Linked DNA regions of Homo sapiens: region 2 is linked to region 1. Evidence: fine-mapped expression QTL. A gene starts in region 1. The other region holds a variant in brackets. All regions are shown on one strand. Distances are from middle to middle. Region 1 holds the start of TLCD3A (TLC domain containing 3A). Region 2 overlaps MRM3 (mitochondrial rRNA methyltransferase 3).

The links.
Region 2: its variant is fine-mapped to the expression of TLCD3A in thyroid (GTEx, PIP 0.97).

What each region holds. Positions count from the first base shown.
Region 1 is chr17:725,844-741,971 of GRCh38, forward strand. It overlaps TLCD3A (TLC domain containing 3A), which reads left to right and starts at 6,753. Exons shown (of 5, transcript NM_024792.3): 1 at 6,753-6,926; 2 at 7,255-7,338; 3 at 12,003-12,204; 4 at 14,662-14,757; 5 at 15,458-16,128. The coding sequence starts at 6,805. The coding sequence ends at 15,727. LOC124903893 (a long non-coding RNA gene) reads right to left here and starts at 6,537. Exons shown (of 2, transcript XR_007065572.1): 1 at 6,336-6,537. RefSeq lists an enhancer at 3,966-4,260 and silencers at 6,230-6,709, 6,730-6,999, 7,070-7,169.
Region 2 is chr17:783,423-799,550 of GRCh38, forward strand. MRM3 (mitochondrial rRNA methyltransferase 3) reads left to right here. Exons shown (of 4, transcript NM_018146.4): 3 at 4,543-4,710; 4 at 8,112-9,087. The coding sequence ends at 8,647. NXN (nucleoredoxin) reads right to left here. Exons shown (of 8, transcript NM_022463.5): 8 at 15,888-16,128. It also overlaps a transcript of GLOD4 not described here. Among named protein-coding and RNA genes, the nearest start is that of MRM3, 9.1 kb to the left of the region's middle. RefSeq lists an enhancer at 7,447-7,741. The variant C/T (reference allele first, on the strand shown) is at 9,354.

The DNA of each region.
Region 1 (16,128 bases):
GCCCGGGCAACAGAGTGAGGAACACACCCCCACCTTTGTTCTTCTGACACAGTGTCTCCGTCTGCCACTCAGGCTGGAGTGCCTGGTACAGTCACAGCTCACTACAGGCTCAACCTGAGGTGATCTCGCACCTCAGCCTCCTAAGTGCCTGGGGCTACGGGCACGCAACATCACAACAAGTTTTTTTTTGTTTTTTTTTTTTTTTGTAGAGACGGGATTTCACCACGTTGCCCAGGCTGGTCTGGAACTCCTGGCCTCAAGCGATCCGCCCACCTTGGCCTCCCGAGGTGCTGGATTTACAGGAGTGAGCCACTGTGCCCAGCCAGCCCTTAAATATTTTTGAAACCTGAGTTTAGAAATGTTTGCTTTTAGATAGGTGTGACTATCTGCAAACAAGCCAGATTTTGCATTTTTAGCAAAAGAAACATGTATGTGAAAGTGCTTTGAAAAATACACAGCAATACATAAAAGCAGCACTCCATCATCGGTTCCTTGTGTAAATTACGGTTTTTACCGGCAGGAATCAGAGCGGAGTCTCCCGTGTAGCATGCAGCTGCGGTCGCTGTTTGTAGAAACCATGGGTTTGGGGTGTGGCTGTGCTTCCCGGCCTCACAGTTTGCTCTTGCAAAGAATCTTAAGATAAAACCAAGGAAGCTGCCGTCTGGAGTCGGGCTAAGGCCACCTAGGGAATCTGTAATCCAGCAGGTGCTTGTTGAGAAGTTTAACAGCAGGGGGCTATGCCTTGAGGATCCGGTATAAAGAACAAGAATCCCCTGCCTGTGCCGAGCACACAGTTTAACGTTTTGAAAATAGGATGTCATTTAATTCTCCCAGCCATCCTGGAGGGTAGAGGCAGGAACCGCCATTTTACTGGGGAAGGAGGCAAAGTGTTTTCTCCAGGTCACACAGCTTCCAGGTGGTGGAGCGTGGACTGGAACTCAGGTTCTCGGATCCCAACTCCAATGCGCTATGCAGTGGCTGCCTCCCAGGCAGACGGCCCCTACCGTCAGGGGCATGTGGTCTGCCAGAGAAACGCACACACACATATCAGCTCAGGGCTACACTGATCAGGCAAACAAAGTGAAGGAGAAATGAAGAGCAGGGTGATTGACTTCTTTCTGGCCACACTCAAAGTCCTAAGAGCAAGTCAGCTCATTCTCTGAACCGTATTTCTTCAGACGCAGTGTGGCTTTTGTTGCCAAAGAGAATGAAGTTCCGCAGAAGGCTGTTGTTCTCCTCTTTGGACACCTCCTTCCTTTCTTTCCGTGTCTGACCTTTTCCTCGTGTTCTGTTGTTGTGCCAATCTTTAGATCTTCATCTCTATGTCTATCTTCCTGTATCAAAGTGTATACTGGCGTTGTGTGTGTGTGTGTGTGTGTGTGTGTGTGTGTGTGTGTGTGTGTGTGTTGAGACAGGATCTCACTCTGTTACCCAGGCTGGAGTACAGTGCTGTGATGATGGCCCACTGCAGCCTCAACCTCCCGGGCTCAAGCAATCTTCCCACTTCAGCCTCCCGAGTAGCTGGGACTACAGCCACACGCCACCACACCCGGCTAATTAGTGTATTTTTTTGTTTTACCATGTCGCCCAGGCTGGTCTCTAACTCTCGGGCTCGAGTAATCCTCCGGCCTCAGCCTCCTAAAGTGCTGGGATAATAGGCAGGAGCCAACTCCGGGGCTCAAGTGATCCTCCCGCCTCGGCCTCCTAAAGTGCCGGGATAATAGGCAGGAGCCACCTCCTGGGCTCAAGTGATCCTCCCGCCTCGGCCTCCTAAAGTGCCGGGATAATAGGCAGGAGCCACCTCCTGGGCTCAAGTGATCCTCCCGCCTCGGCCTCCTAAAGTGCCGGGATAATAGGCAGGAGCCAACTCCGGGGCTCAAGTGATCCTCCCGCCTCGGCCTCCTAAAGTGCCGGGATAATAGGCAGGAGCCACCTCCTGGGCTCAAGTGATCCTCCCGCCTCGGCCTCCTAAAGTGCCGGGATAATAGGCAGGAGCCAACTCCGGGGCTCAAGTGATCCTCCCGCCTCGGCCTCCTAAAGTGCCGGGATAATAGGCAGGAGCCACCTCCTGGGCTCAAGTGATCCTCCCGCCTCGGCCTCCTAAAGTGCCGGGATAATAGGCAGGAGCCAACTCCGGGGCTCAAGTGATCCTCCCGCCTCGGCCTCCTAAAGTGCTGGGATAATAGGCAGGAGCCACCGTGCCCACGTGCCCACCCCCTGTGCCGTATCTTTCTATGTCTCTTCCTATTTCTTCATTCTCCTTTTGTCCTTCCTGCCCTCTCTCTGCTTCAATGGTCCCTACTGTGGAAATGAAGTATGGGTCTACACAAAGTAACTTTTACTTCAGAACAGATGTCCATTTTCTCTGTTAGGGTATTTATTTATTTATTTGAGACAGGTTCTTGCTCTGTCGCCCAGACTGCAGTACAGTGGCACAATCTGGGATCATTGCAACCTCTGTCTCCCAGGCTCAAGCAGTCCTCCCATCTCGGCCTCCTGCGTAACTGGGACTACAGTTACTGGGGTGGGTTCCACCCATCTGGCTTTTTTTTTTTTTTTTTTTGAGAGACAGGGTTTTGCCATGTTGTCCAGGCTGGTCTCCAACTCCTGGGCTCAAGTGATCCACCCACCTTGGACGGATCCCAAAGTGCTGGGATTACCGTTGTGAGCTGCTGTGCCCAGGCTGTGTTAGGATTTTTAAAGTGGATGAGCGGACAGAGACCCCTAAGTTCCCTTTTGGTTCGGGAGCTCACTACGTGGAGGCGCTTCACGTGTGATCTCACTTCTTTCTCATGTACATGATTTTCCCAGATAGGAGGAAAAGGTCCTCGATCAAGGGTAGTTGCCCACACATCACATATCTTAATGGCATTCACTTGAGAACTCACAAAGTATTTTACAAGTAAATACGGTATTTTCCATTTAAGGCTGAAGAAACCAGGAAACAGATATGGGGAGAGTCCCTGTGTCCTATTCCTTAATGATAGCGAGTGGGGTCCAGAGGAATGGGGGAGAGGAGATGGAAAGGCAGGCCCACATGCTTTCATGGCAGAAAAATCCCTCCGTAGCCCTTTAGAATGGGGAGCTTTATAAATTCTCTGTTCAAGGGGGCGACAGTCTACATTTGGTAAGTGAGTTTTACGTTGGCATTAAGTAGCCCAAATTTCACTCTGGAAACCCACACAAGCAGTGTAATGACAAACTGGTGAAACCCAGCCCCACAGCCTGGAGTAGTGGAAATTACCCTGGAACAGGTTCTAACCTGAGCCTTGTCCCTTCACAGGGTGGTGAGTCAGCGGCCCATCCTGCACTTCGCTTTCTTCATGTGTAACATGGAAATAACAGGTTTAGCCAACCTCACTGGGTTATTTTGAGACCCAGGTGAGCTACTACACGTGAAAGTGCTTTGAAAATTTGTAAAGTTACATATAAACAGAGAATACTGTTCATGGCAGCATCAGAGCCCATCAATTCACCATACAAATTTATGAGTAAATAATTAGGAACAGTATTCATCAGAAACTATATTGTGAAAGATTATTATTCCCTCCTTGCTTATCAGGCTTGAAGGCAGTATAGTCATCCGGCACATGGAACTAAAGGCAGAAAGTACTGAGTTTGAATCCCAGCTCGCCACCAGCAGTGTGACCTGGGGCGATTTTTAAATTGCTCTGGTCTGAGTCTCATTTTGCTGATACACACAAACACACACACACACACACACACACAGAGTGAGAATAACATCTGTTGTGAGGATTTAATGAGACAATGTAGACAAAACATCTGACATAGGACCTAGCAAACAGTAAGTACTCAACAGGTATGAGCTTTGGAAAGTATGAAACATGTATTGCACCCTCAGAATGTGCCAGCCTCACTTGGGGTACAAAATGAAAAGACACAGTCCTTGTTTCTAGGACCTAACAGTCTGGTGGAGAAACATACAAATGAGAAAACAACAGCCTCGTTACCCAAACCCAAAGGCAGACCTGGAAACCTTCTTAGAGAAGGAAACAGCTGATTCGAGACTTTTGAAGGATGAGGGGAAGTTTGTGTAAACCAGGCCCCGTGTTTTTCATTTGGCCTTACCATTTGCCGACAGGGGTTTGATCGCTTGAAAAGCTAAGGTTCATGTTTCTGCTTGTTAGCTTTATGGTGATTCAACATAAACAGTCTGGTGACTTCACTGAGCATGGTGTTGAAACTGATCTTACTTGCTATTTTCTTTTTTCTTTTTTTTTTTTTTATTTGAGACAGAGTCTTGCTCTGTTGCCCAGGATGGAGTGCAGTGGCACGATCTTGGCTCACTGCAACCTTCGCCTCCCGGGTTCATGCCATTCTCCTGCCTCAGCCTCCCGAGTAGCTGGGACTACAGGCGCCCGCCACCACGCCCGGCTAACTTTTTGTATTTTTAGTAGAGGCCGGGTTTCACCATGTTAGCCAGGATGGTTTCGATCTCCTGACCTCGTGATCCGCCCGCCTCGGCCTCCCAAAGTGCTGGGATGACAGGCATGAGCCACTGCGCCCGGCCTTTACTTGCTATTTTCTATACATGAAACATCGGTTGTTTTGTTTTCAACTCATAAAGATGCCTTACAGCTTCTTGTGTAGGGGAGACTGGTTCCCACCACTCAAAGGTGCCAGCATACTCACTGCCAAGCTGCTGCTCCCTTTAAGGAGGGAAGGCAGGGAGGACTTGTAACCACCTGTCACTCTCTGGAAACACTGGCGCTGGAGGTCACTGTGATAAATGCTTAGGAAAGAGACAGTGGACTGCACAGAGTCGTTTTCCTGGAGAGAATGGAGAGTTCACAGGTAGCTGGTTTTGTCCACAAGCGAATGTGAAAATAAAGAGAGCGTCGCATTTGTCAGATATCTTGGGACCAACCTGAAGTGGCTTTCTCCTTTCACTGAGTATGTCAGCAGTGAATTTGGGAGTTAGAGATGTTGCCCTAAGTGGACGAAGTTTGAGGCTTTTCTTGAGGCTGTCTGCCACCGTCCTGTTGGCTAAGTCCCTTTTCTTAACCACATATAGGAAGATGTTAGAGGCTACATTCATTCCAAAAGGTCACAGCCTAGTAACTGATACTACCACTGAAGGAAAACTATCTTTTAAACCTGAGAAACATCTTCAGACTCCATCATGAATGAATCCAAATTGAAAAAAACAAAAGCTGTGCTCACTCTACACCAGTTCCTACATCACTAACTGCCGTGTTAAAGTAATTTAACTGGCACCTAACAGAAATCATCTGCCACTTTGTAAAAGTCATAGACTCATAAGAATCTAGAGCTGGAAGACCGTTAAAGAGCTAGTGATCCAGCCTCCCTCTCATTTCACGGACCAGCAAATCGTGGCCCAGAGAGCCGAGCCCAGCTGTTCCGAAGTCCTCATACGGGATTTTGGTCAGCATTTTGCATGACGGTGATCTGAGGAGACCCGTCATACCTTTCATTTGTAGTAACATAAATGAACTGTATTTCCCACCCCCTACGTTTGTTAGCTGAGGAAGATACAGACCAAAGCAAAATAAAGCTGGTAGTTCCTAAAGGACAGAAGCCAATGATACTGAAATTCCTGTCTTCATCCATGTGATTGGTGCTTGGCACAAATGAAATGTATTCCAATTCATTCAAGTTTAGACGCCTGTCCCGATAACTGTTTTTTTGTTTGTTTGTTTGTTTGTTTTTTGAGACAGAGTCCTGCTCTGTGGCCCAGGCTGGAGTGCAGTGGCGTGATCTCGGCTCACTGCAACCTCTGCCTCCCAGGTTCAAGCGATTCTCCTGCCTCAGCCTCCAGAGTAGCTGGGACTACAGACAGGCACCACCACACCTGGCTAATTTTGTATTTTTAGTAGAGACGGGGTTTCACCGTGGTGGTCAGGCTGGTCTCGAACTCCTGACGTCAAGTGATCTGCCCGCCTCGGCCTCCCCAAGTGCTGGGGTTACAGGCGCGCCCGACCCCGATACTTTTAAATAACGACACGTTGTGAACAACACCACAGTCCCTACGCCTCTGGATGGTGTCTCCGGATAGATCCAAAGCCGAGAGGCAGTAAGAGCCTGCAGCCTCCACAGTCCGCCTCCTGGTGCAGGTGGAGAGGGGCTGCTGGAGGCCCCCGGACCTCACGCTTCCTGAGGGCCACCCCGGAGCGGCTGCAGCCGCTGGCGGCACCGGGAAAAGCATCTCGGCCGTGCGGGGAGAGGCCACATCCTGAGGCCTCCCACCGAGAAGCACCAGGGCTTGGTGGACGGGGCCCGCGAACCCAGGGCCACACGCCGCCTCCCTCCTTCCTTCCCCGCGGGCCTCGCCCCACCCCGGAGGGGGTTCCTACCTGGCTTCCTCGGCCCCGCGCCCACCCCGCCCCTTCGCCCGGGGCCGGCGAGAAGAGCAGGTCGGGGAGGGGCGCGTCCGCTGACGGAACAGAAGCCGGGAGCCGCGGCCCTTCCCGCCTCCGCCTGGGCCCCGCGGCCGCTCGGGAGGGAGCGGCGGACTCGGAACGCGCGCGCGCCGCGGCCCCGGCCACAGCCGCCGCCTCGGTCCCCGCCTCCGCCCCCGCCCACCCGCCCGCCGGGGACGCCGGGGAACCCTCCGGGCCCAGGGACCGCGAGAGACCCCGCCCCGCCCTATCGCAGCCGCCGGGCCTGGTCACGCGCAGAGCCGCGCCGCGGGATCGGGGCCAGCGCCGGGCGGAGGCGGGACGGGGACGGGGGCGGAGGGTTGAAATCGCGCGGCCGGGCCGGGGCGCGCCGAGCCGAACCCAGCCACGCGGCGCCAGCGAGGCGGCCGGACCCGCAGCCCCGATGCTGCTGACGCTGGCCGGGGGCGCGCTCTTCTTCCCGGGGCTCTTCGCGCTCTGCACCTGGGCGCTGCGCCGCTCCCAGCCCGGATGGAGCCGCACCGACTGCGTGATGATCAGCACCAGGTACCGGCGCCGCCGAGACGCCCCCCGAGGCCCGGGGCGCTGCCCACCGCACCCCACCCGGCCGCGGGGCCCAGGGCGGAAAAGGGGGGCGGCAGGAAGCCCGGGGGCTGCTCCCTCCGCGTCCCGGCGGCCCGAGTTTCCGAAGCCCCTCCGCGTCCTCCCCTGGCGGGAGCGGGGCCGGGGCGGGCGGGAATGGCCGATGAGCCTCCGGAGCCCGCTCCCCACATCTGCCTGCGGCTGGGGAGAGTCAGGCCGAAGGGCCGGGCCGGGCTCCCTGCGGTCCTCGGACCGGACTGAGCGCGCGCGCTGTTCTCTCCGCCCGCGCTAGGCTGGTTTCCTCGGTGCACGCCGTGCTGGCCACCGGCTCGGGGATCGTCATCATTCGCTCCTGCGACGACGTGATCACCGGCAGGTAAGAGCCCGGGCCGGGGCCTTGTTGCAAATGTCACATTTCAGTAGCTCGCAGGCTCTGGCTCTCGCAGCACACGCGCTCAGAAAGCTGACTAATGGGAAAAGCTGGCACCACAATGGGCTCCTTCTTCCTCTCCGGAGTCTTCGGGCACCCCCAGCTTAGGAGAAAGTCCACGGAAATGAGGGAGGACGACAGAGTCGGAGTCTGATTTCAGGTGGTGTGAGCCAGGGATCCAGGTCCTTCATGGAAGAGATAAGCGTGGAAGCATTTACGACTGGGAGTGTGGCTTGATTCTTGCAGTTGGCTTCACTGGGTTCTCACTCTGGAGCATCACTGGCTAACAGACGTCCAGTGTGGTTAGCAGAGCCCCCTCCATGGAAAGGAACCAACCCACCACCCCCTTCCACGCAAACGCCGCTCTTGCTTTTCCTGCAGATTTGCTAAAGGTGATTGAGAGGTTCCCAGCGCTTAGAACACGGACTTGTACGTCTATCAGAGGTCAGTCCAGAGGCAGGTCAGGAAATGTGCACCTATCTGCAGTTCCAGTGAAACAAATCATAAATTAAGACCAGAATAGTCGACTTTGTACAGTAGTTAGACCTGGACAATGGTGGTGCTTTTATTATTTCAAGCCTTTTTTTTCCCCACCGGTCTTGCTGGAATCACACTCACTTTCTCCCAAGTTGAAGGACCACAGTCGGATGTGCAGGAAGTTGAACGGCCTTTCCAGGCCCTGCTCTCCTGTGGGCTCTGCCAAGTCCTGCTTCTCACCTGCTGAGACTGAACTGCGAGGGGCCTGAGCAAGCTGTCCGTCTCACTCTAGCCTGCGGTCTTACCTGGGATCAATCCTGCTGTCATGATTTTTGTGCTTTTCTTCTGCCTTTTTAAAAACAAAACTGGCTATTGGCGATGAATAAGTAGATGCTACGATAGATCAAGTGACATCGATTGTAGACACCAAAGGTTAATATTGGTGTGGCTGGGTACAATTTTTCTTCTTCTTCTTCTTCTTTTTTTTTTAAAGACAGGGTCTCACTATGTTGCCCAGGCTGGTCTTGAACTCCTGGGCTCAAGTCATTTTTCTGCCTCACCCTCACAAAGTGCTGGGATTACAGGCATGAGCCACCACACCCAGCAAATTTTTTACTTTTTTTTTTTCCTGTCGAGACCTCAGGCTGAGGTGCAGTGGCATAATGACAGCTGACTGTAGTCTTGAACTCCAGGGTTCAAGCCACCCGTCTTCCTTAGCCTCCCAAGCTTGGACTACAGGCACACACTACTACACCTGGCTAACTTTTTTTTGTTGTTGTTGGTAGAGACAGGGGTCTCCCTGCGTTGCCCAGGCTGGTCTTGAACTCCTGGGCTCCAACGATCCTCCTGCCTGGGCCTCCCAAAGTGTTGGGATTATAGGCGTGAGCCACTGCACCCAGCCAAAAAAGGCCTTTCAGGGTTCATATACTATATACTGAATATTTTTCTATTATATGCCTTCTCATTTTATGCCTTCACATAGAATGCGATTAGATAGAAGGAGTTAAAAATCCCCCCAAATTATAGGCAGAAGGTGGTATGGGGCCAAGGATTTAGTCAGATTCTTAAAGGATTCAGACACTAAAATGACAAAGTCACAGCTCCAGGTGGTTTTCTCAATTTAAGTACTTAATTCAGATAGTACGTTGTTGTTTTAGACAGGGTCTGGCTCTGTCACCCACGCTGGTCTGAACTCCTGGGCTCAAGCCATTCTCCCACTCAGGCCTCCCAAAGTGCAGGGATCATAGGTGTGAGCCACCGTGCCCAGCCTGTATAGTACCTTTTAACATTTAAAAGGACTCCCCCTCCCCGCCGCCTTTCTTTTTATTGAGATGGAGTCTCACTCTGTCACTCAGACTGGAGTGCAGTGGTGAGGTCTCGGCTCACTGCAACCTCCACCTCCCAGGTTCAAGTGATTCTCCTGCCTCAGCCTCCTGAGTAGCTGAGGTTACAGGCATGTGTCACCACGTCTGGCTAATTTTTGTATATTTAGTAAAGCCATGTTGGCCAGGCTGGTCTTGAACTCCTGACCTCAGGTGATCCATCCGCCTCGGCCTCCCAAAATGCTGGGATTACAGGCATGAGCCACCGTGCCCGGCCGACTTTCCCACATTTAATTATTTAATCTTCACTGCAGTTTTGACAGGTAAGACAGACAAGGATTATCATCTTCATTTTACAAAGAAAGTTAAATCACAGGCTAGTGATAGTGAAGATTATAATCCAGATCTCTTGCTAATAAATCTTCAGAGGATTCTACTCATGAGTCACAATTTCAGATCTCTTCTCTGAATTGGTGAAAACATGAAAACCCTAGGTTCCCTTCAAGGGGAGAGGCCAGTTATATTTCAGCTAAATTTTAGTAGCTGTTTATAGGTATTTTACTTGAAATTGCTTGAAGAAAGCACCTGAGACCATAGATGGGCATTGGAATAAGTATGGCATCTTTTTGGCCAAAAGAAACCTAGCTAGGTCGGGTGCGGTGGCTCCTGCCTGTAATCCCAACACTTTGGGAGGCCGAGGTGGGCGGATCACTTGAGGTCAGGAGCTTGAGACCAGTCTGGCCAACATGGTGAAACCCCCATCGCTACTTAAAAAGAAAAAAAAAAAGAAAATAGCCGGACGTGGCGGCAGGTACCTGTAATCCCAGCTACTCGGGAGGCTGCGGCAGGAGAATCGTTTGAACCCACGAGTCAGAGGTTGCAGTGAGCTGAGATCGCGCCACTACATCCAGCCTGGGCGACAGAGCAAGATTTTGTCTCAAAAACCAAAACCAAAAAAAAAAAAAAAAAAAAGGAACCTGGCTAATGAATTCACCTACAAGTGTGTTATACTTGCCATTACTTGCTTGCCTTATTTGTTTATTCATTATTTACGCCGTGGTAAGTGTGGAGTTGCTCAAGAGCACAAATTCAGATGGCGCCTCCGTAGACTGTATTTCCAGTGTTGCAGTTCAGCGGACTGGCTGCGTCCGAAATCAGAGACAAAGTTAATACAGATTTCAGGGCCCTCGGCTTACAATTTAGAATCTCTGGGGACTGGAGCGCTTAACAAGCACTGCAGGTGATTCTGATGTTCAGGTAGTTTGAGAACCATAAAACGAAATGGTTTTCTACCTAATACGTGGATGCGCATCAAACGTTTGCTGACCATGTGAATGGAATCCTCAAATAGTACATGATTTCAATTTAGATGTTTCTTCACAGAAAACATCTGTGGAATGCTTATCACTGGGAACCACATTGTATGAATTGTAGAGGCTTCCCTTCTAATCTGCTCTAGGACGGTGATCAACTATGATTTCCATTCAGCAAATACTGATTCAGCCCCTTTGGATAAGTAAATGGGAAAACTGTCTTTTGACCTAGCCTCTCTCCTGGTACCTAACCGCTGTAATGTGGCCCTTGAGCTCCAGGCTCATTTCCAGACCTGCTTTTTTTTGTTGTGTTTTGTGTGTTTTTTGAGACGGAGTCTCACTCTTTTGCCCAGGCTGGAGTGCAGTGGCGCGATCTCGGCTCACTGCAACCTCTGCCTCCCAGATTCAATCGATTCTCCTGCCTCAGCCTCCCAAGTAGCTGGGAGTACAGGTGCACACCACCATGCCCAGCTAATTTTTGTATTTTTAGTAGAAACGGGGTTTCACAATGTTGATAAGGCGAGTATCGAACTGCTGACCTTGTGATTCACCTGCCTTGGCCTCCCAAAGTGCTGGGATTACAGGTGTGAGCCACCACGCCCAGCCTCCAGACCTGTTTTTCTTAATGGAATTGAGATTATCTCTAGAATTGCTTTTTGGGTTTTTTTGTTTTTGTTTTTTTTAGATGGAATCTCACTCTGTCGCCCAGGCTGGAGTGCAGTGGCGCAATATCGGCTCACTGCAACCTCCGCCTCCCGGGTTCAAGTGATTCTCCTGCCTCAGCCTCCCAAGTAGCTGGGACTACAGGTGTGCGCCACCACATCTGACTAATTTTTGTATTTTTAGTAGAGACGGGGTTTCGCCATGTTGGCCAGGCTGATCTTGAACTCCTGACCTCAAGTGATCCACCCGCCTCAGCCTCCCAAAGTGCTGAGATTACAGGTGTGAGCCACCGAACCCGGCCAGCTCTAGAATTGTAAAGAAAATGGCCAGGGTTGCCTCCCAGAAACTCCATAGAGTGGGGTTGCATGCAGACAAGAGAAAACTCACAGGTTCCAGGATTTAAGTTAGTAAAACCCCCAACTGTTGAGCAGCTAAGGAGTTAAACTAGAAATGTTGGATTTGTGATTTGGGACACTTTCCAAACCAGCTTCTTGGTGGGGCCGTTGAATCATTTGTATATCTATCTATATCAAAATCAGTTTTATCACAAAATGCCAGAACATCTACTACAAATTAGTAGCTAAGTCAGGCAAGTAGTGACAGCAAGCTGCTTCAACAGGCAGGGCTGAGTGAATGCCTGCTTTTTGCCTTTGACACTCACGAATTGGCCCTGAAACTGAGAGCAAGTGGTCTACTCTCCCTGTTTATCAGTTTCAACATCTTTATTGTAAAGTATTTGGAATAATAATAGCTGATCAAGCACCAAGCTTGGCTGTGAGCCTTCATAATGGATATCCACAATGATTTCACGGGCCATTCATATGCTTTCTTTCAGGCACTGGCTTGCCCGGGAATATGTGTGGTTTCTGATTCCATACATGATCTATGACTCGTACGCCATGTACCTCTGTGAATGGTGCCGAACCAGAGACCAGAACCGTGCGCCCTCCCTCACTCTTCGAAACTTCCTAAGTCGAAACCGCCTCATGATCACACATCATGCGGTCATTCTCTTTGTCCTTGTGCCAGTCGCACAGGTATGGCCTTCCAGGACAGCAGACCAGCAGCTGGGTTGAGCTGGGTGTCTTTTTTTTTTTTTTTTTCTGAGACAGTCTCACTCTGCCGCCCCAGCTGGAGTGCAGTGGTGTGATCTCAGCTCACTGCAACCTCCGCCTCCCGGGTTCAAGCGATTCTCCTGCCTCAGCCTCCTGAGTAGCTGGGATTGCAGGTGCCCACCACCACGCCCGGCTAATGTTTGTATTTTTAGTAGAGATGGGGTTTTGCCATGTTGGCCAGGCTGATTTCAAACTCCTGAACTCAAGTGATCCGCCCGCCTCGGCCTCCCAAAGTTCTGGGATTACAGGCATGAGCCACTGCGCCCGGCCTGAGCTGGATGTCTTGACCGTTACTTAGGAGTCGGGATTGCCCCTCTTTTCTTTGCCACTCATAGGCACCCATTCTCCTTGTGCCTGCTGCTTCAGAGCCACCTCCCCCAGGTGAATAGTGGAGGAACACCATTACACATGAAACGTTCATGATCCTCCTTACCAACATCAACATCAACATACTTTTTCTTTTTTGAGACAGGGTTTCACTCTGTCACCCCGGGTGGAGTGCAGTTGTTGGATCACAGCTCACTGTAGCCTCAAACTACTGGCCTCAAGTGATCCTCCTGCCTCTGCTTCCCAGGAAGCTGGGAACACAGGCACACACTACAACGTCCAGCTAATTCCTGTAATTTTTGTAGAGTTTCTCCATGTTGCCCAGGCTGGTCTCAAACTCTTGGACTCAAGTGATCCTCCTGCCTAGGCCTCCCAAAGTGCTGGGATTACAGGCGCGAGCCACTGCACCCGGCCCCAACATTCTTTTTAACAAACCCCCAGCGCTCTGTGATTCCCTAGCGTTTGTCAGAGGTTCTATCCTTAGTTCAATACAAGATAAAAACAATATAAAATACAAATATAATACAAAGCAACATAACAGTGCCAGAGAGCACTGTGTGGATTATTCTTAGGTCACAAAACACAGATTCTCAAAGCAAATAGCCTCCTACTTTCTCCCCAGATCCATTTCCCCATAAAAGCCCACCCAACAAAGAAAAGCAATGGGAAAGCTGAGGGGAAATTCCTCACTCTTGAGTGCCTGGCCAGGGGAAGGCATGCGTTTTTTTTTTTAATTATTCATTTATTTAGTTATTCATTTTTTTGAGATGGCGTTTTGCTCTTGTTGCCCAGGCTGGAGTGCAATGGCTCACTGCAACCTCTGCCTCCCGGGTTCAAGTGATTCTCCTGCCTCAGCCTTCCAAGCAGCTGGGTTTACAGATGCACGCCACCATGCCTGGCTAATTTTTATATTTTTATTAGAGACGGGGTTTCACCATATTGGTCAGGCTGATTTCAAACTCCTGACCTCAGGTGATCCACCTGCCTCAGCCTCCCAAAGTGCTGGGATTACAGGCGTGAGCCACTGCTCTTGGCCGGCATGTAGTTTTATTTTATTTTTTAAATAAAGAGATGGGGGTCTCCTTATGAGGCCCAGGCTGATCTTGAACTCCTGGGCTCAAGGGATCCTCCCGTCTCAGCCTCCCAAAGTGCTGGGATTATAGGCGTGAGCCACCGCGCCCTGCCAGGCATGTGATTTAAAAGTTCATAGCTTGCTAAATATTAGAAGCTATTAGTCTTATGCTGTAGATGAAGAAACTGGGGCTCTAAGAGTATTCTTATATCTCTCAGTGGTACTAAGTGGCAGAGCTGATATTTTACCATGCTTACTGCTTTCTTGAAAAAAGAGGCCGGGCGAGGTGGCTCATGCCTGTAATCCCAGTCAGAAGTTCGAGACCAGCCTGGCCAACATGGTGAAACCCCATCTCTACTAAAAATACAAAAATTAGCCGGGTGTGATGCTGTACATCTGTAGTTCCAGGTACTCAGGAGCCTGAGGCAGGAGAGTCATTTGAACCCGGGAGGCAGAGGTTGCAGTGAGCTGAGATCACGCCATTGCTCTCCAGCCTGGGCAACAAGAACAAAACTCCGTCTCAAAAAATAAAAATAAAATAAATAAATAAGGGTAACGTGCATTAAATTCTTTAAGAAGTGTCTGGGACCTACCATCTAGGAACCAGAACATCTAGGGTGCTTTGAGACCCTAACATCTAGCACAGGGCCTGGCACATTTTGTTGAACCAAACAGGCTGAGTGTCTTGGCATGACTAAGTTCGATACACAAAAGTAGGCTTGCAGCCTTCCTTCCGGCTGTCATCAAAATTCAGAGCTTGGTGTGGGACGCCGTCATCCTGTCTGAATTTGCCTCTGGATCCTAGGGCTTGGACCATCAAAGTGCTGTTGCCACGGAAGCAGCGGTACAGTAGTCTGCGCTTGCCTATTGAGCGTCCTTTGCCCGTCACAGTTACCCTTTTCAGTAGCCCTCGTTGGAATTTTCCTTCTGGTGGTTTCTTAACCTCCACTTACTTCCCCTTTTCGTTTCGTCATCCGCAGAGGCTCCGGGGAGACCTTGGGGACTTCTTTGTCGGCTGCATCTTCACGGCAGAACTGAGCACTCCGTTTGTGTCGCTGGGCAGGGTTCTGATTCAGGCATGTATGAATGAAATGACAGAGAGTGTGAGGGTTCTGATTCAGGCATGTATGAATGAAATGACAGAGAGAGTGAGGGTTCTGATTCAGGCATGTATGAATGAATGGCAGAGAGAGTGAAGGTTCTGATTCAGGCATGTATGAATGAATGGCAGAGAGAGTGAGGGTTCTGATTCAGGCATGCATGAATGAAATGGCAGAAAGAGTGTGGGAGGGAGTGGATTCTGCTTTTCCTTCGGAGATGGTGGGTGTGGAGAAATCCCTAGTGCCAGGAGAGTGGGATGAGAGATCCTTCAACAGCCTTAAAGGTCAGCTGGTCATCTCAGCCAGTGGGGGTGAAATTGTAGGTTTGATCTAAGTTTGATAGTTTGATACAGCTCATTCTATTTTTTCCCTGGTTACACACATACTTTAATCCACGGTTCCTGTACTCCTGTCAGCTGGGTGGCCTGGGTCAAATTCAAAATCACTATTGGAGAAAATGAGGTTATTTGCACATCTCAATATGATAGTGTTCAAGAATGTCTTCTCCAAGTGTTAGAAAACTAGACAAACGTCTGGGCGCCAGGGAATCTGACAGCCAAGGTCTTGATGAGCACCTGCACCTGTGTGGCATTTACTGTGGTGGGACTTGGGCCCGTCGCTCCCTGATGCCCAGCTTCTTGGTGACCTTACCTTTTTCCTTCCTCTTCTATTGCAGCTAAAGCAGCAGCACACCCTTCTGTACAAGGTGAATGGAATCCTCACGCTGGCCACCTTCCTTTCCTGCCGGATCCTTCTCTTCCCCTTCATGTACTGGTCCTATGGCCGCCAGCAGGGACTAAGCCTGCTCCAAGTACCCTTCAGCATCCCATTCTACTGCAACGTGGCCAATGCCTTCCTCGTAGCTCCTCAGATCTACTGGTTCTGTCTGCTGTGCAGGAAGGCAGTCCGGCTCTTTGACACTCCCCAAGCCAAAAAGGATGGCTAAATGCTCCTGGGAGTCAGGCGCAGCCTCACACCAGCTGCCTCCTCCACTCAGCATTCCATGGACCAAATTGTGCCCTGGGTAGCCTCAGACTTTGGGTATTGATAAGCCGATGGATTTGAGTTTTTCTAAAGAATATTCATATTACCTCCTTCTTCTAACTTGCCCTATTTGCAAAAGCACTTTTGTAGTAACAACTATTGGGTCCTGTCAGACCTCCACGGACAGCAAAGTGGTTTTAATGCAAGCCCAAGGATCCTTCTTAAGGTCTTATCTCAAGAGCTCTGGGAGGTGGAAGCATGGGGTGGGATCGGTGGACCAGGGTGGTAAGTGTCTGCACATCTGCCTGTCCCTGTATCAGCGGCTACCCACCTTCCAAACCACTCAGGACAGTACCCGTGGCA
Region 2 (16,128 bases), 58 kb after region 1:
GCCTCTCGGGTTCAAGGGATTCTCTTGCCTCAGCCTCCGCAGTAGCTGGGATTACAGGCGTCTGCCACCATGCCCGGGTGATTTTTGTATTTTTAGTAGAGGTGGGGTTTCACCATGTTGGCCAGGCTGACGTCGAACTTGTGACCTCAGGTGATCCTCCTGCCTCGGCCTCCCAAAGTGCTGGGATTACAGGCGTGAGCCACCATGCCTGGCCTTACACAGTGTATCTTAAGGTGTGGAGACCTAGGATTAATTTCTCATACTTGTCTTAGGACAGCAGCATTGAAATGAAATTCAAAATGTTACAATTAGAAAAATATAATTCTCAAACCTGTGTATCTTAGAGTATTTTCAATGGAAATTGAAACCCGTTTTTCACTATCATTTGTGTTGTGGCTCTTTATGGTCTCTAGGAAGAACCACTATTCCTCAAACCTTCTATTTTTTAGATTACTTCTTCAACTTTCTATGTCAGATTAAAAATTAAGAAAGCGTTTACTGAAAGATTGAGCCCTTCATTTTTGCAAAACCTCTGCCAATGTGGTGATAACTGTCAATAAACTGCTTATTCCAGAAGCAGATCTAAGAAGCGAGGTACAAGCCACAATTTACTGCCCCGTTTAGCCCAATAAACAGAGAACCTTGTCTTCTAGTCTGTTCCTTCATTTGGCTGAATCTGACTTAACCTTATGTAACTCCGATGTTGATTAGCAGTTACAAAGTCTTTGGTCTAAATATGAGAAGATAAGTTTTTCATACGTTTTTGACATGGGAGTTTTAAGATATGAAAACTGAATCCTTGAACTGCTGAGAGAGGAGATTCTGGGGAACCATCTCTTGTCTCTGTAACCCAGTGAGTCACAGGGATCTGTGCCTCTGCACTCAGAGCTCTTAGATCCTAGGATGGGGACTTGGATTACTAAAGTACCTAGAATTACTCATGCTAAGTAACCATATTCTCACTAGCTACAGCCCTCTAATCCACACGCCATGCTTCAGTGAAAGTGTTATTCATTTTTACCGTGCTTGTCACTTGGGGCAGGTGTGCTCACAGTGGCCAGCCCATCTTGAACTTGTGCTTGTCACTTGGGGCAGGTGTGCTCACAGTGGCCAGCCCATCTTGAACTTGTGCTTGTCACTTGGGGCAGGTGTGCTTACAGTGGCCAACCCATCTTGAACTTCATCATCATACCTGCTTTCATCATTTCCTGGCTTATCCTTATGTTACTATATTTTAGATTTGAGGGCAGGGAATAAGGGAGAAATGGATAGGAACTGGCAGCACCTGTCAGGCTTTAGACAGACACTCCCCAGAATCCAGCGACATAAGTAGGGCCTCCGTATAGTGGGTTCTCATCACCACAGACATCCAAGTAGAAGTAAAGGACTTCTAAGGTCCTCAGCCCTACTGAATGGCTTTTGGCCATCTGTGACTCCGAAGTGGAGGCTCTCTCACAGCACACAGACGCCTAATACCCTTCCATTGCCTTCAGTGGTGGATAGGCTTTTTACCTGCACCATCTTTTAGAAAGAATCCTAAATCTTTGATTGTATCATGTTTCAGTACAAGTACTATTTCATTCATCTCCTGACTTCAGTCAGTAGCCCATTTATTGTAGCAATCATATACGACAAAATACTAGTAAGATTCAAAAAAACTGTACAGTCCCTTGGGAGCAGACTACAAAGGGATTGAATATTTGATAATTATACATAAAGAGTTTAGGGTAGTGCTTGGCTTAAAAAAAAAAGCTTACTAAAAGGTTATCATTATCACCTCTACCAGTAAACATGGTGATTCAAAAAGAAACTTGTGGATATGTGATACACCCATGTGAATAACTTCATCTATACCACAGCAATTTCATGTACTCAAAGCCATTTTTAATATTGTTATTAGCCTTTTTCCAATTTTTCTCTTTTCCCATAAATTCTTTCCATAAAACTTTAGAGATTAATAATGTAGAGATTATATAATGTAGATTATTATATAATGTATATATAATTTTATCATGTAGAGATCATTAAATAAGGAGAGAATTTTCCACTAAGAAGGCCACTTAGGGTTTTCATTTTCCCAGATAGTCCCAGACCCCATTTTACTCCTTTGTATTAGACTGAGGACAGAGCGGTCGCCAGTAAGTGGCTGTACCCATTCTAAAGCTCCCAGGCTTCTGGACCTCCAGCGTGAGGCCTTGGAAGTGACTCAAGCGTTCACTGCACCTACAGCCCCTTCGTTTTGCAGAGTATGTCCCTAAGACAGTGCTTCTGAGCCAGCGTATTTGAAAAAGGGGTTGTTACTTTGATGCATTCAAGTTTTGAAATTCATATTCTTTTTCCTAGGAATGTAGTTTGAATTTTAAAATGAGTGATAAAGGAAAGATAAATCAGTATAGCAGGCTAATAATTGTTTTTTAAATATTTAAGCCTATAAACTATTTTTTAAAAGCCTACCTGGTAGGAAGATGGGCACAGGTTGTAGAAACAAGACAGTTAAAGGAGCACAGGAATTCACTGAAGAAGATCGCAGTCAGTCAGTAAGGTGTTTAGCTTCTCTAGTAATCAGAGAAAAGGCAAGTTAAAATAATGGCATGCTGTTTTTTCTATCACATTGGGACAAATGGAAACAAATGATAGACCCGCTTTTAAGAAGGGTTTGAGCTGGAAAACAGGTTTTGTTTTGTTTTGTTTTTTGTTTTTGAGATAGTGTCTCTGTTGCCCAGGCCGGAATGCAGTGGCGCGATCTTGCCTCACTGCAACCTCCACCTCCTGGGTTCAAGCAATTCTCTTGCCTCAGCCTCCTGAGTAGCTGGGATTACAGGCATGCGCCACCATGCCTGGCTAATTTTTGTTTTTTGTTTGTTTGTTTGAGACGAAGTCTCGATCTGTCGCCCAGGCGGGAGTGTAGTGGCGTGATCTCCGCTCATTGCAAGGTCCGCCTCCCGGGTTCACACCATTCTCCTGCCTCAGCCTCCCGAGTAGCTGGGACTACAGGCGCCCGTCACCACGCCCGGCTAATTTTTTTGTTATTTTTAGTAGAGACAGGGTTTCACCGTATTAGCCAGGATGATCTTGATCTCCTAACCTCATGATCCGCCCACCTCAGCCTCCCAACATGCTGGGATTACAGGCATGAGCTACCGTGCCTGGCCTAATTTTTGTATTTTTATTAGAGACGGGGTTTCACCATGTTGTTCAGGCTGGTCTCAAACTCCTGACCTTGTGATCCGCCCACCTCAGCCTCCCAAAGTGCTGGGATTATAGGCATGAGCCACTGCGCCCAGCCGAAAACAGGTATTTATGAGTTCCTGATGTGAATAAACTGAAAGAGCCTGTGTGAACGTTAATAGTGCACGCACATCATTTGTCCATTTCACTCACAGGTATTTATGCTAGAGAAATTTTTAGACACATGGACAGACAGTCCTACAGGGATACCCATTGCAGCAGCATTTGTAACAGGGAAAAATTCAAATAATTTAACAGTCCATAGGGGAAGAGCTAAATGAACTGTGGTACATTCATACTACAAAATAGAGGCTGGGCATGGTGGCTCACAACTGTAATCCCAGCACTTTGGGAGGCCGAGGAGGGTGGATCACCTGAGGTCAGGAGTTCGAGACCAGCCTGGCCAACATGGCAAAATCCCGTCTCTATTAAAAATACAAAAAATTAGCCGGGTGTGGTTGCGGGTGCCTGTAATCCCAGCTACTTGGGAGGCTGAGAGGCAGGAGAATTGCTTAAACCCGGGAGGCAGAGGTTGCAGTGAGCCAGCATTACACCATTGTACTCCAGCCTGGGCAACAGAGTGAGAGAGTGGGACTCTGTCTCAAAAAAAAATAGCCTACAGCAGTTAAAGGAAAAAAGTAGCTTCAAACATATTGACATGGTAAGTTCAAGATATATTGTTGCGTAAATAAGTCGATTACAGAATAATACAGAGTATGACACGGAATGTAAAACACATTTACATATGGACAGGTGTGCATATATATAGGTAGATGCATAGAACAAGTTCTAAAAGGATACACTCCAAAACAGAACAGTTGAGGGGGAGGAGAGTGGTACTGGTAGAATTTTATGTTGTTTGAATTTTGCCAATCAGAATGTATTCGTGGTTTTTTTTTTCCTTTTTTTTCTTTTTGAGAGGGAGTCTCACTGTGTCGCCCAGGCTGGAGTGCAGTGGCGTGATCTTGGCTCACCACAACCTCCACCTCCCAGATTCAAGCGATTCTCCTGCCTCAGCCTCCCAGGTAGCTGGGACTAGAGGCATGCGCCACCACGCCTGGCTAATCTTTGTGTTTTTAGTAGAGACGAGGTTTTGCCACGTTGGCCAGGCTGGTCTCGGACTCCTGACCTCAGGTGATCCACCCGCCTTGGCCTCCCGAAGTGTTGGGATTACAGGCATGAGCCAGTACACCTGGCCTGTATTCCTGTATTTTTATGTAACTAAGACCATATCAAGATTGATAAGTAAATGAAAAGTCAGACTATTCCCCGTGCCCACACCAGGCAAGTAAACCACCTGTTTTGTTTCCTCAGGGATTTTTGCCAAGCCTGACCATGTTAAGATGACATATCCAAAGACTCAGCTTCAGCATTCACTGCCTTTATTATTGATTTGTGACAATCTCCGTGACCCTGGGAACCTGGGGACAATTCTGAGATCTGCAGCTGGGGCAGGCTGCAGCAAAGTGTTACTCACCAAAGGTAAGGACATCAAAGGCCAGGCATAGTGGCTCACACTCGTAATCCAGCCCTTTGGGAGGCCGAGGCAGGAGGGTCACTTGAGCCCAGGAGTTCAGGACCATCCTGGGCAACATAGTGAGACCTCATCTCTACAAAAAAAACTACAATTAGCTGGGTGTGGTGGGGTGTGCCTGTACTCAGTCCCAGCAACTTGGGAGGCTGAGGTGGGAGGATTGCTTGAGCCTGGGATGTCAAAGCTCATCACATGTCAAGTGAGCTCATCACTGCACTCCAGCCTGGGCGACAGAGTGAGACTCCCTCTCAAAAAAATAATAAACCAGGTGGATTAGTTGGTCTGGTCTTTTTTTTTTTTTTTTTTTTTATTAAAGAGATGGGGTCTCACTATGTTGCCCAGGCTGGTGTTGAACTGGCTCTGACTCAAGCAGTCCTCCTGCCTCAGTCTCCCAAAGTGCTGGAATTATAGGCATGAACAACTATGCCCAGCCAAGTCAATCACTGTTAGGTGAGCTATGGCTCTGGGCAGGCAGACATGCATTGGATCTTGGGTCTGCCTTCACTAGCTGTGGTCCCTGAGCAGTAGCTGGAATGACAGGCATGAATAACCACGCCCAGCCAAGTCGACCATTGTTAGGTGAGCTAGGGCTCTGGGCAGGCAGACACGGCTTTGGATGGGTCTGCCTTCACTAGCTGTGGTCCCTGAGCAGTAGTCCCTGAAGTGTCAGCTTCCTCGTTGGTGAACTGGGAGGAATAACAGAATCTCCCTGGTCACTGTGAGGATTAAGTGAGATGATGCACAGAAGTTACTTCATACCTTACCTGCCTCACGAGTAATTCAGTCAATGTTGATTCTCTTTTTTAAAAATTATGTTTTTTGTAGAGACGGGGTCTTGCTGTGTTGCCCAGGCTAATCTGGAACTCCTAAGCTCAAGGGATCCTCCTGCCTCGGCCTGTCAAAGTGCTGAGATTATAGGCATTAGCCGCCATACCCAGCCATGTTTATTATCTTTTAAAATTATCATGAAACCTGCTAGGCTGTTAGAGAACTTCACATCGATTATGGAAAAGAAATAGATGCCAATTTTAACACTTGGTTTCTGGTTCTTTATGTAATGATATTGAGTTCCCAAATTGCTGAGTATATGAGCCACTCCTGAGTCTTGACTTCTGAATCCTATGAAAGGAATGACGTCAGCAGCTCTGAATCCTAATGTCATTGTGATCCGTTTCCCTTAGATTCCCTTAGCCTCAGCGTGGGTCACATGCCCCGCACACAAATTCGCCTCATTACATTTCTGTCTCTTCTCATCAGAAATAGGGATTAATAGGCTTGGCTCTAAACAGACTTTCCTCACAGTTGGAGCACGCCTAAAATGTCTCTTACACCTTGGGAGGTGGAGGGGACAGAGAGTACCATTCATCAGAAACACCCCAGCCACCATTAAAAGTAAACTAATAGTGGCACCCGTTGTTGAGACTTGCCTAAATTGCTGCTCGCAGCTCTTTCTCAGTCACGCCTTGCTAGAATACGTTTCTGTGCCAGTGTGAGAGCTACGTGCTGGGGTTCTGTGATCAGTACCCGCTTACTCGCCCCATTATTTAGTGCTCTGATAGCTGTTGTGGGATTTGGAAATAAATCTAAATAATCCAAGCATTGTGGTTTTCACATTGATACTGATGGCTGGGGTGTAAGAAATAGGGAAAGAAGGTAGGAAATACTTGGTGTGGTGCCCAGTATCCAGGACATGAGGATGACGGGAGGAGTCTCGCCTTTCCCCTTTCCCTTCTCCCCTCCAGGCAGAGGGGTCAGCCTCGGCCGCTCCTCTCACACGCCTGGGCCTATCTCTGGTTTCCTGCAGGGAGAGGGAAAGCCCGTGGCTGGGGGTGCAGGCGCTGTTACATCCTCTGTGTCTTATTCTCCGTTTAAAATCTGGTTTGCCTGGTTCGTCTATCCCGAGGTTTGACAAATGAACTTCTAAAATAACTCGTCAGGAGAAGACTTGCGCTAACAAGCTGTGCGGGGGAGGGTGGGAGGCCATGCAGTCACTGCGAGGCCCCACCCTCGGCCACTCTCCCAGCCCGCCCGTGGTGAGGAGCCGCCCCTGGGAAAGGCCAGGCGTCGCAGGCTGCTGCCGGGGTTGCCTCTTGCCTCATTGCCTCATCTCTAGAGTGTTCCCTGCTCCGGTGCAGACTGAACGTTGAAGCCCAATGGGTCTTGATGAAACTATAGATCTGATTCTGTCACTGCTTTGCTTAAGATCCCTCAATGGCATGATACTGTCTTCTGATAAAATGCCAAACTCCTCAGCTTCCCATAGGAGGCCTCCTCCGTGTTGGCCTGCCCACCTCCCACCTCCTGTGCCACTACAGCCCCAGCGCTGATTGACCGGCTCACTGCCTGTGCCACCACACCCCCACCCGCTGATTGGCTGGCTCACCTCCTGTGCCGCCACAGCGCCACCGCTGATTGGCCGGCTCACCCCCTGTGCCGCCACAGCACCACCAGTGATTGGCAGGCTCACCTGTGCCACCACACCCCCACCCGCTGATTGGCCAGCTCACCTCCTGTGCCACCACACCCCCCCACCCGCTGATTGGCCACCTCAACTGTGCCACCACACCCCCACCGGCTGATTGGCTGGCTCACCTCCTGTGCCGCCACAGCGCCACCGCTGATTGGCCGGCTCACCCCCTGTGCCGCCACAGCACCACCAGTGATTGGCAGGCTCACCTGTGCCACCACACCCCCACCCGCTGATTGGCCAGCTCACCTCCTGTGCCACCACACCCCCCCCCCACCCGCTGATTGGCCACCTCAACTGTGCCACCACACCCCCACCGGCTGATTGGCTGGCTCACCTCCTGTGCCGCCACAGCGCCACCGCTGATTGGCCGGCTCACCATGCTTGCAGTCCTTAGGCTGCGCCACTCTCCCGCTTCCTCTCCTAGCTCTGTCCTCTGCCTGGGCCTTTATCTCAGTGTGGTGGTCTTTTAGATGGTTTTCCTCATCGCCCTGCTTTGTCCGTGGGTTTTCTATGACTGTGTGGGTGCTTCTTTTACATCAGTTACTGATACTGTAGCCATCTGTTTAATACCACCCCACTACACTGTGCGTTCCTTGGGGTTGGGGACTTTCATTATCTTTGCATCTTCTGCGCAGTGTCTGGCACGTGTGAATGGGAGATGTTGAAGGGATGCATAAAATATCTTCAGCACTAGCAGGAGTGACTCCTATAGTCGCTGTGCTGGATGCTGTCAGAGAGAGGCAGAAGGTCCCATCCCTCAAGAAAGCTATCATAGAAGAACTGGTTTATCTCCTGATCCAAAATTGATCAGACTTACTCCACAGTCCCCTGGTCTGGGAAGATTTGTAACATCTTGATTGTTTCCTTTTTATTTTCCAGGCTGTGTGGATGCCTGGGAGCCCAAAGTGCTCCGGGCGGGTATGGGCGCACATTTCCGGATGCCCATTATCAATAATCTGGAATGGGAAACCGTGCCCAATTACCTGCCCCCTGACACTCGGGTCTATGTGGCTGACAACTGTGGCCTTTATGCCCAGGCTGAGATGTCTAATAAAGCTAGTGACCATGGCTGGGTGTGTGATCAACGAGTGATGAAGTTTCACAAGTATGAGGAAGAGGAAGATGTAGAAACCGGAGCCAGTCAAGATTGGCTGCCTCATGTTGAGGTTCAGAGTTACGACTCGGACTGGACAGAGGCGCCGGCAGCTGTGGTGATTGGCGGGGAGACCTACGGCGTGAGCCTGGAGTCCCTGCAGCTGGCCGAGAGCACTGGTGGCAAGAGGCTGCTGATCCCCGTTGTGCCTGGTGTGGACAGCCTCAACTCGGCCATGGCGGCAAGCATCCTGCTTTTCGAAGGGAAAAGACAGCTGCGGGGGAGGGCGGAGGACTTGAGCAGGGACAGGAGTTACCACTGAGGACGCAGAAGTGACTTCTGCTTGAGGACGTCTGCAGCTCCTCCTACACCAGCACACTGGTGGGAGGCTGGCGGAGTCAGTGACTATGGCCCCCACGTTCAGGAGGAAGGTGTGATGCCGTCATACAGTTACAGGAAAAATAAGAACTTCCTCAGAAAGAACAGGTCCGAATTCTTCCTGTCGCGTCACTGATTTTGAGGTTCTTTTTTCTCTTGGTGACAATAGGTGACCCACGTGGCTCTGTGTGTTTTTAAAAATTGTCCACCAAGAAGCACTTTGTGCCCAGAAAGTTCCTGAAGCATCATCCTGGCAGGGAGGCGCCTGCTCCACCAGCTGGTGGGTGTTTGTAATCGCCAAGCACCAGCTATAGGTCACAGCCACATCACTCACAGCTGATCACTGGTTGGTGGAAAATAAACTATGAGCAGCAGATTACGTTAGTAAGTTGTTTTGTGTCGTTGGTGTGTCACAGTACCTGTCACGTTTGGCCTGGTAACGAGGACGTGGCTAAGGGAACACCAGGAAGCTGAGGGCTACGCTCATGGCATCCAGCAGCTCTGCTCTGGGCTCAGATGGTCTGTCTTTGAGATTGTTCAGGGCTTCACTGAGCCACTGTTTATGTATCCATAGAAACGGCTTAATTCAACAGGCCATGTCAGACCTTCTTGGCACCTCTGCAGATACCTTTTTGAGGACTTTGCAGAGA[C/T]GGAAGTCTATGCGGAAAACTGAATTTCAAAATCGGCAGCCTCACCCTGCATGTGTCAGGAAAGTGTCACTGTTTCCTGGTTCCCTGTGTTAGTCCTACTTACGTCTCATCCCCCAATGTTTAGAGGCCAAGGTTCTGAGAATGAACGCCCACAATACAGCGGCAGGACCCTTCTGTTCTCTCAGCCCCTCCAGGGCCCAGGGCAAGCTGGATCTTTACCTACTAGCGGCCAAACCAGGATGTAGCCAGGGTGTCAGGGCAAGTGCTGATGGTCATCAATGTATCTATAAGGAACTGTGGGGATGGGGTGGGTGGGTGGAATATGGGACTCTTAAGCACTGCTGGCCAGGTGCGGTGGCTCACGCCTGTAATCCCAGCACCTCGGGAGGCCGGGCGCAGTGGCTCACGCCTGTAATCCCAGCACCTCGGGAGGCCGGGCGCAGTGGCTCACGCCTGTAATCCCAGCACTTTGGGAGGCCAAGGCGGCGGATCACAAGGTCAGGAGATCGAGACCGTCCTGGCTAACACGGTGAAATCCTGTCTTCACTAAAAAAATACACAAAATTAGCCAGGCGTGGTGGCAGGTGCTACTCGGGAGGCTGAGGCAGGAGAATGGCGTGAACCCGGGAGGCGGAGCTTGCAGTGAGCCGAGATCGCGCCACTGCACGCCAGCCTGGGCGACAGAGCGAGACTCCGTCTCAAAAAAAAAAAAAAAAGCACTGCTTTTGCAGCCACACAGAGTTGGAGTTGAAGACAACACAGGAAGCGTTTCCCCACACCCCTCTGCCCAGCGGCTCCCGTAATGGTTTGGACACTGCTCACTCCAGGGAGGTCAAGTGTGTTGCTGGTGTGCCCAGGAGAAACCTTCTTTCTCTTCTACTCCCCCAACTTCCTAGTCAAACTCCCTCTTCCTAGTAAAACCAAATGACCAAGCATGATTCACGTGCCAAGGGGCAGGTTGGGATTGCTCTCCCCTGGGGGAGGGGTGTTTGCAGGGACAGTGTCCTCCCAGGCTGACATCTGAATATTTGAACATCTGCTCTGGAGCCCCACTGTGGTCTGGGCCTGCCCAGAGCTCCACATGAATGGGCAATGCAAGTGTCCCCCCAACACTGCTCCCAAAGGCTGGTGCAGAGAGGACAGGCGGAAAGGCGGCCTGGAGAATGCAAATCCATCCCACTCCAGTCTCCCCAGACACCTCAGGACAGTGCTCAAGCAGCAGGAGTCACGAAAAGGAAGCTCACATCTTTCCAGCCTAAAACCAATCTCGTGGGATTTGTTCCCCGGGTTATACTCCCACTGACTCGTTACAAAATAACAGTGAAAGAATAAACCATGTATTACCTTGTCCTTGTTTAGAAAAAGCAATGTAAACACTGGAAAGTAATTTTTTTTTTTTTTTTTGAGACGGAATCTCACTCTGTCGCCCAGGCTGGAGTGCAGTGGCGCGATCTCGGCTCACTGCAAGCTCTGCCTCCCGGGTTCCCGCCATTCTCCTGCCTCAGCCTCCCGAGTAGCACCTGCCACCAAGCCTGGCTAATTTTGTGTGTTTTTTTAGTGAAGAAAGGATTTCACCGTGTTAGCCAGGACGGTCTCGATCTCCTGACCTTGTGATCCGCCGCCTTGGCCTCCCAAAGTGCTGGGATTACAGGCGTGAGCCACTGCGCCCGGCTAATTTTTTGTATTTTTAGTAGAGACGGGGTTTCACCATGTTAGCCAGGATGGTCTTGATCTCCTGACCTCGTGATCCACCCGCCTCGGCCTCCCAAAGTGCTGGGATTACAGGCGTGAGCCACAGTGCCCGGCCAACACTGACAAGTAATTCTAAGCCCATTTTATCCTGGGTGTGAGAGGGAAAAGAAATTTACATCCCTTTGCTTTAGAGTCCGTGGCTTATATGCCACGGTGCCTTCAGTTCACTTTATATATTCATGGGTATAATTTAGTAGGGACGAGGGAGGGTGCAGGAGGGAGGCAAATTGTCCTTTCTTCAGTGAATACAGGGGAACAGATGGTTGTTATTTGCTGAGTGATTCTGGAAAATCACTACCTTGAATTCTCAGTTTTGAGTCTGACATTTGTTCTGTCACCATTTCCCCAGTAAACAGGAATAAAAAACGAGCCACATTTGACAAGGAAAACACTGCTTGGCCGAGAGACAAACATTGTCAGGATGTTGGCCACGCTCCCGCGCCTTTGTGTGGTGGCGTAGCTGTCACAGTGGCGTCTGCCAGGAGGTGGCAGGCGACACCTCCAAAACCACCCCAGTGCTGAAGGGCGGGGCTGCGATTTTTTCCTGGATTTAAATCGTTGAAAAGGGAGGAAAAGAGGATGGAGTGAAGTCTCCCTCCACCAGAGAGCATTTTGCAAGCTGTCTGTGCTCCGGGGTGTTAAAGCCGGAGACCCATCCAGATTGTCCCAGACCACCTCAGAAGAAAGAACCCGGAGTACAGGAAGACATGGGAACAAAAACGGAGGCGAAAGAGGACGAACGGGAAATAGCAGGAAAGACCGTCACAACTTTTCCCTGTGACTGCAGCCTCTGAGAAAAGCAACTCTGGGCAAAGCATAGGTGTCCAGATGTGCCTGGAGCTCACGCTGGGTGCCCACCGGCTGGCCCTTCGGTTCCTGCTTCGGGGCAGAGAGCGTTGAAATCACTCTCCCCTCGCCCCAGCCGCTGGCTCCTGGCTGGGAGCCTGGTCATTAAGGTCCAGAGGAGAAACAGACCTCTGGGGACCTGCCGTTCACCTGGGACCTTCCGCTGCTTGCCCCGGGGTTGACAGCAACCCCAGATGTCCGCACCAGCCACGCTGGGCCACACTTAGCCCCACTTTTGCCATTCTACCACGCACAGCCCTCACACACACTCCCCATCCAAGGTTCCAGGGCTCTGGGCTGAAAATCACCAGCTGTACTGCAGGGCCTGGGGCTGCCCTCTTGACCAAGCTACCTCTCCCTCAGGAGCAGAGCTGACAGGCTCACCTGTTTTTAAGAAAACATGTTGCCACCTTAAAAATTCCATGATTGTGTTTCCTCTGTTTTCTTTTTTTTTTTTTAGATGGGGTTTTGCCACGTTGCCTAGGCTAGTCTTGAACTCCCGGCCTCAAGCTATCCTCCTGCTTCAGCCTCGAAAGTGCTGGGATGCCAGGCGTGAGCCCCTGCGCCCGCCATGTTTCCTGTTTTCATCAGTGCAGGGAGTGCACACATGTAATAAGCTAGGAGCCAAGTTAGTGGATGAGCTGGTTTATTGCTCAGGATGACTGAAGTCTCAACTACGGAACCATGTTACATTCGAGCAGCTGAGACAGCAGCTGAAGCCAGGTCCTCCCGAAGCTTCAGGAAGCCTGCTTGATGCTCCACGGCTGAGAGTGACAGAGAATCCAGAATAGCTTATGGATGGGTCAGTTCTCGTCTCACCACACTCCCAATATCCAGCTTCCTGGACTGTTGTGTAGGGAAGAGCCACTTTTTTCAGTTGAAGTCTGAGTTCTTATGGGCCATGACCAAGGCTGCTGCTTCCTCAAAAGGCACGAAGGGGGCCGCGTGCGGTGGCTCACGCCTGTAATCCCAGCACTTTGGGAGGCCAAGGCGGGCGGATCACGAGGTCAGGAGTTTGAGATCAGCCTGGCAAACATGGCGACACCCTGTCTCTACTAAAAATACAAACATTAGCCCGGCGTGGTGGCGTGTGCCTGTAGTCCCAGCTACTTGGGAGGCTGAGACAGGAGACTTGCTTGAATGTGGGAGGCGGAGGTTGCAGTGAGTCAGATCGTGCCACTGCACTCCAGCCTGGGTGACAAAAGTGAAACTCTTGTCTTTAAAAAAAAAAAAAAGAAATGCAGGAAGGGAACAGGGAACAAGGCTGGGGAGGGAGGAGCCGACGGCTGCAGCAAGCTCCGGCCTCAGCCTCCCTTCCCTGCTCCTCTGAGATGCCGAGGGCGGGGCGTACTCACTGCAAGCCTGCCAAGTAGGACCTCCATGTCCTCTGACATTCGAGAGATGGATTTTTTGGCCCTGAGATCACGTCTCCTACTGTGTCGTCATTCTAGCACCTGTGGGTGACTTCCTCATGTGAGTGAGGCATAAGCACCCGGAATCCGGACTGGAGGCCGTCTCTGCCTCTGGATTGCACACTGGCCTACAGACCTGGGGACAGAGTCTTTCACGAGTTGTGTATCGTTTAACAGAAACCCAACAGTTCCACCCAAACCTCCTGACACATTCTCGGGCTTGGGAAGTGTCCCAAAGCACCAAGGGGGTGAGACACACGCCTTGAAAAATGGCAGTAGGCATACTTACCTGTCTTCATGCGCTCACATACGAGGTGTACCTAGAACGCCCTCATGTTATATTCCCAGCACTAATGAAGCTACTGGTCAACAGCTATTTGTTCCCAAAGAATTTTCCCTTGCGCAGCCGCAGCCTGGAGGAAGCAGGGCGTGTGCCCTCGTCTGCTGGCGGCAGCAGTGAGGGGTGTAGCCAAGTGCCCACTTCTCTCATTCAGCTGCTTCGGGGCAAACTGGAAAGATCCTTTGAGCTCACAGCCCCCTGCTCAGTGCTACTCCTGAACCTGCGGGCCTGTGTGCACAGCCACCCACAGCGCGCACAACACATGGGCCTGCCCAGGGCAACGGCACCGTCAACAGCGTGTGCCCTCGCTCAGGGCCCTGCTGGTACTACGCTTCCCAGTGTGCAGGGTTCCCAGACGTGTGTCCTCTCATACATTGCATTTCCTCCCTAAGCTGCACGGGGCAACACCGTGTTAGGTCCCGCGCATCTGCTCCTGGGCCACATCCGGCTCCGTCTGTATTGTTCCTGAATTCAGTTTGCTGTCCTAGAACAAGGCAGCAGGAGGGGAGAACAGCTTTTCAGTGTCTTTAATTAGGCAACAGGAAAAAACAAAGTCTGGCTGAAAATTACTATTTGAAGCTTGGCCGATGCCAACACAGCACTCGCTCCCTGCGTTCTGGTAAGTGATGGCCATTGATTTCAAGGACGTACCAAGGGGCGAAAAGCAAGAGCAGGAAGTCACCTCGCTCTGGAAAAGAAGCTGGTTTTCATCTGCTGTATGTGCTGGTCCCAAACATACCCTTTTCTCTTTTTTTAGTATTTTTTTTCCCAATTAGGAATTCAATGTGGAAAACATACCCTTTTTCTTCAACAGGCTTTTAATGTTGGGAAGACAGGTTAAAAAAAACAACAACAACAGGCTGGCTGTGCCGGCGCACGCCTGGAATCCCAGCACTGTGGGAGGCCAAGGCAGGCAGATCACCTGAGGTCAGGAGTTCGAGACCAGCCTGGCCAACATGGCGAAACCCCGTCTCTACTAAAAATACAAAAATTAGTCAGGCGCGGTGGTGTCGCTTGTAATCTCAGCTACTTGGGAGACTGAGGCAGGAGAATGGCTTGAACCTGTGAGCTGGGATCGTGCCACTGCACTCTAGCCGGGGCGACAGAGCGAGACTCTGTCTCAAAAAAAAAAAAAAAAAAAAACCCTCATCGCTGTTGTGAGGATGAATGGATGGGATCTGGAAGTCACTGTGGTAAACACAAATCTGGGAACCACAGAGTGGCGTTTTCACAGCCGCCCCCAGCCTCCACCTGCAGGGCCTGGTTTTCCTGGCTGCCGGAGGAAGCCCTTGAATATGCCACAGCTGGTGCTGAACCTGCTTCCAATTAGCAACAAGAATCTGAAGGTGGAGCTGCTTGGCGGGGATTATCATGCCACCCACTTCGCCTGCATCTGTGGCCTTTACGACCTCTCACTATCGATCCCTGACACTCAGAAGTGATTCTTCCCTAACGGTTTCCCGCAAAGCAGTCACTGTATAAACCTGAACCTTTGGAGTAAACCTTCCCCACGGGTCTTAAGGAAGCTACAGACCCACTCTAAAAGGGGAATTCTGGTGTCAAGAATCCAGTTGCAATGACTTAGGGCAACCCCCTCGCTGGACTTTGTTCCTCCTGCCCCAAAGGTAAGCAGCTGCTAAGAGAACCCACCTTTCCTCCGAGGCCATCATGATACATGGAGAGAAATCCTGCCACCTCCCACATTCAGGTCGGCCACATTCATCCCACCCACCCCGACCCCTAAGGGAGACTCTGGCAGCGTTCCCAGAGAAGCCTTGAGCCTGGGACCTGCTGGGTTTAAGAGGCTCCCACACTTGGCCCATTCTTCACAAGGAGACCCGTGCGTGATTCCTCCTGTTCTCCCAACCAGCTTTCTCAGGCTTCAGAGGACTCGGCTCCCCTGGAGGGAGGAAATGGGCAAGAATGTCCACAGCAAGGTACGCGATCTGAGGATTCACCCTCCGTCCAGGGCCAAGTCAAACCAGGAGAGACGGTGGCCAGGGCTGCAGGAGGGATCTGCCTCTGCCACGGTCATCCAAATGAGCTTCCTGGCTGCCGGAAGCCAAGAGGATGTGACAGATGCTACATCCTGGGGGTCTCAAAACTCCTGGGACTCAGCTCCCAGCTACCAGGTATCCTCCACTGCCCACCCCGATAGAGCACAGGACCACAAGCAAAAACAACTTTTGTGATCAAGGACAGCAGAGGCCCAGGGTGGATGAGGTCCAGAGATGCCTGCTTTATTTCCTACGGGGTGATCGCATTTCAGGCTGGTAACATCACATAACAAGTCTAATCGCCAACTAGTTGTACGCCTCTGAACTACAAGTCAACAATCCAATTCAGCAAGGAACAACAGTGTCAACAGCTCATTAGCGGGTGGGGACCGGATTTTCCAAATCAATGGTCTTGGCTGGCAGAGTGC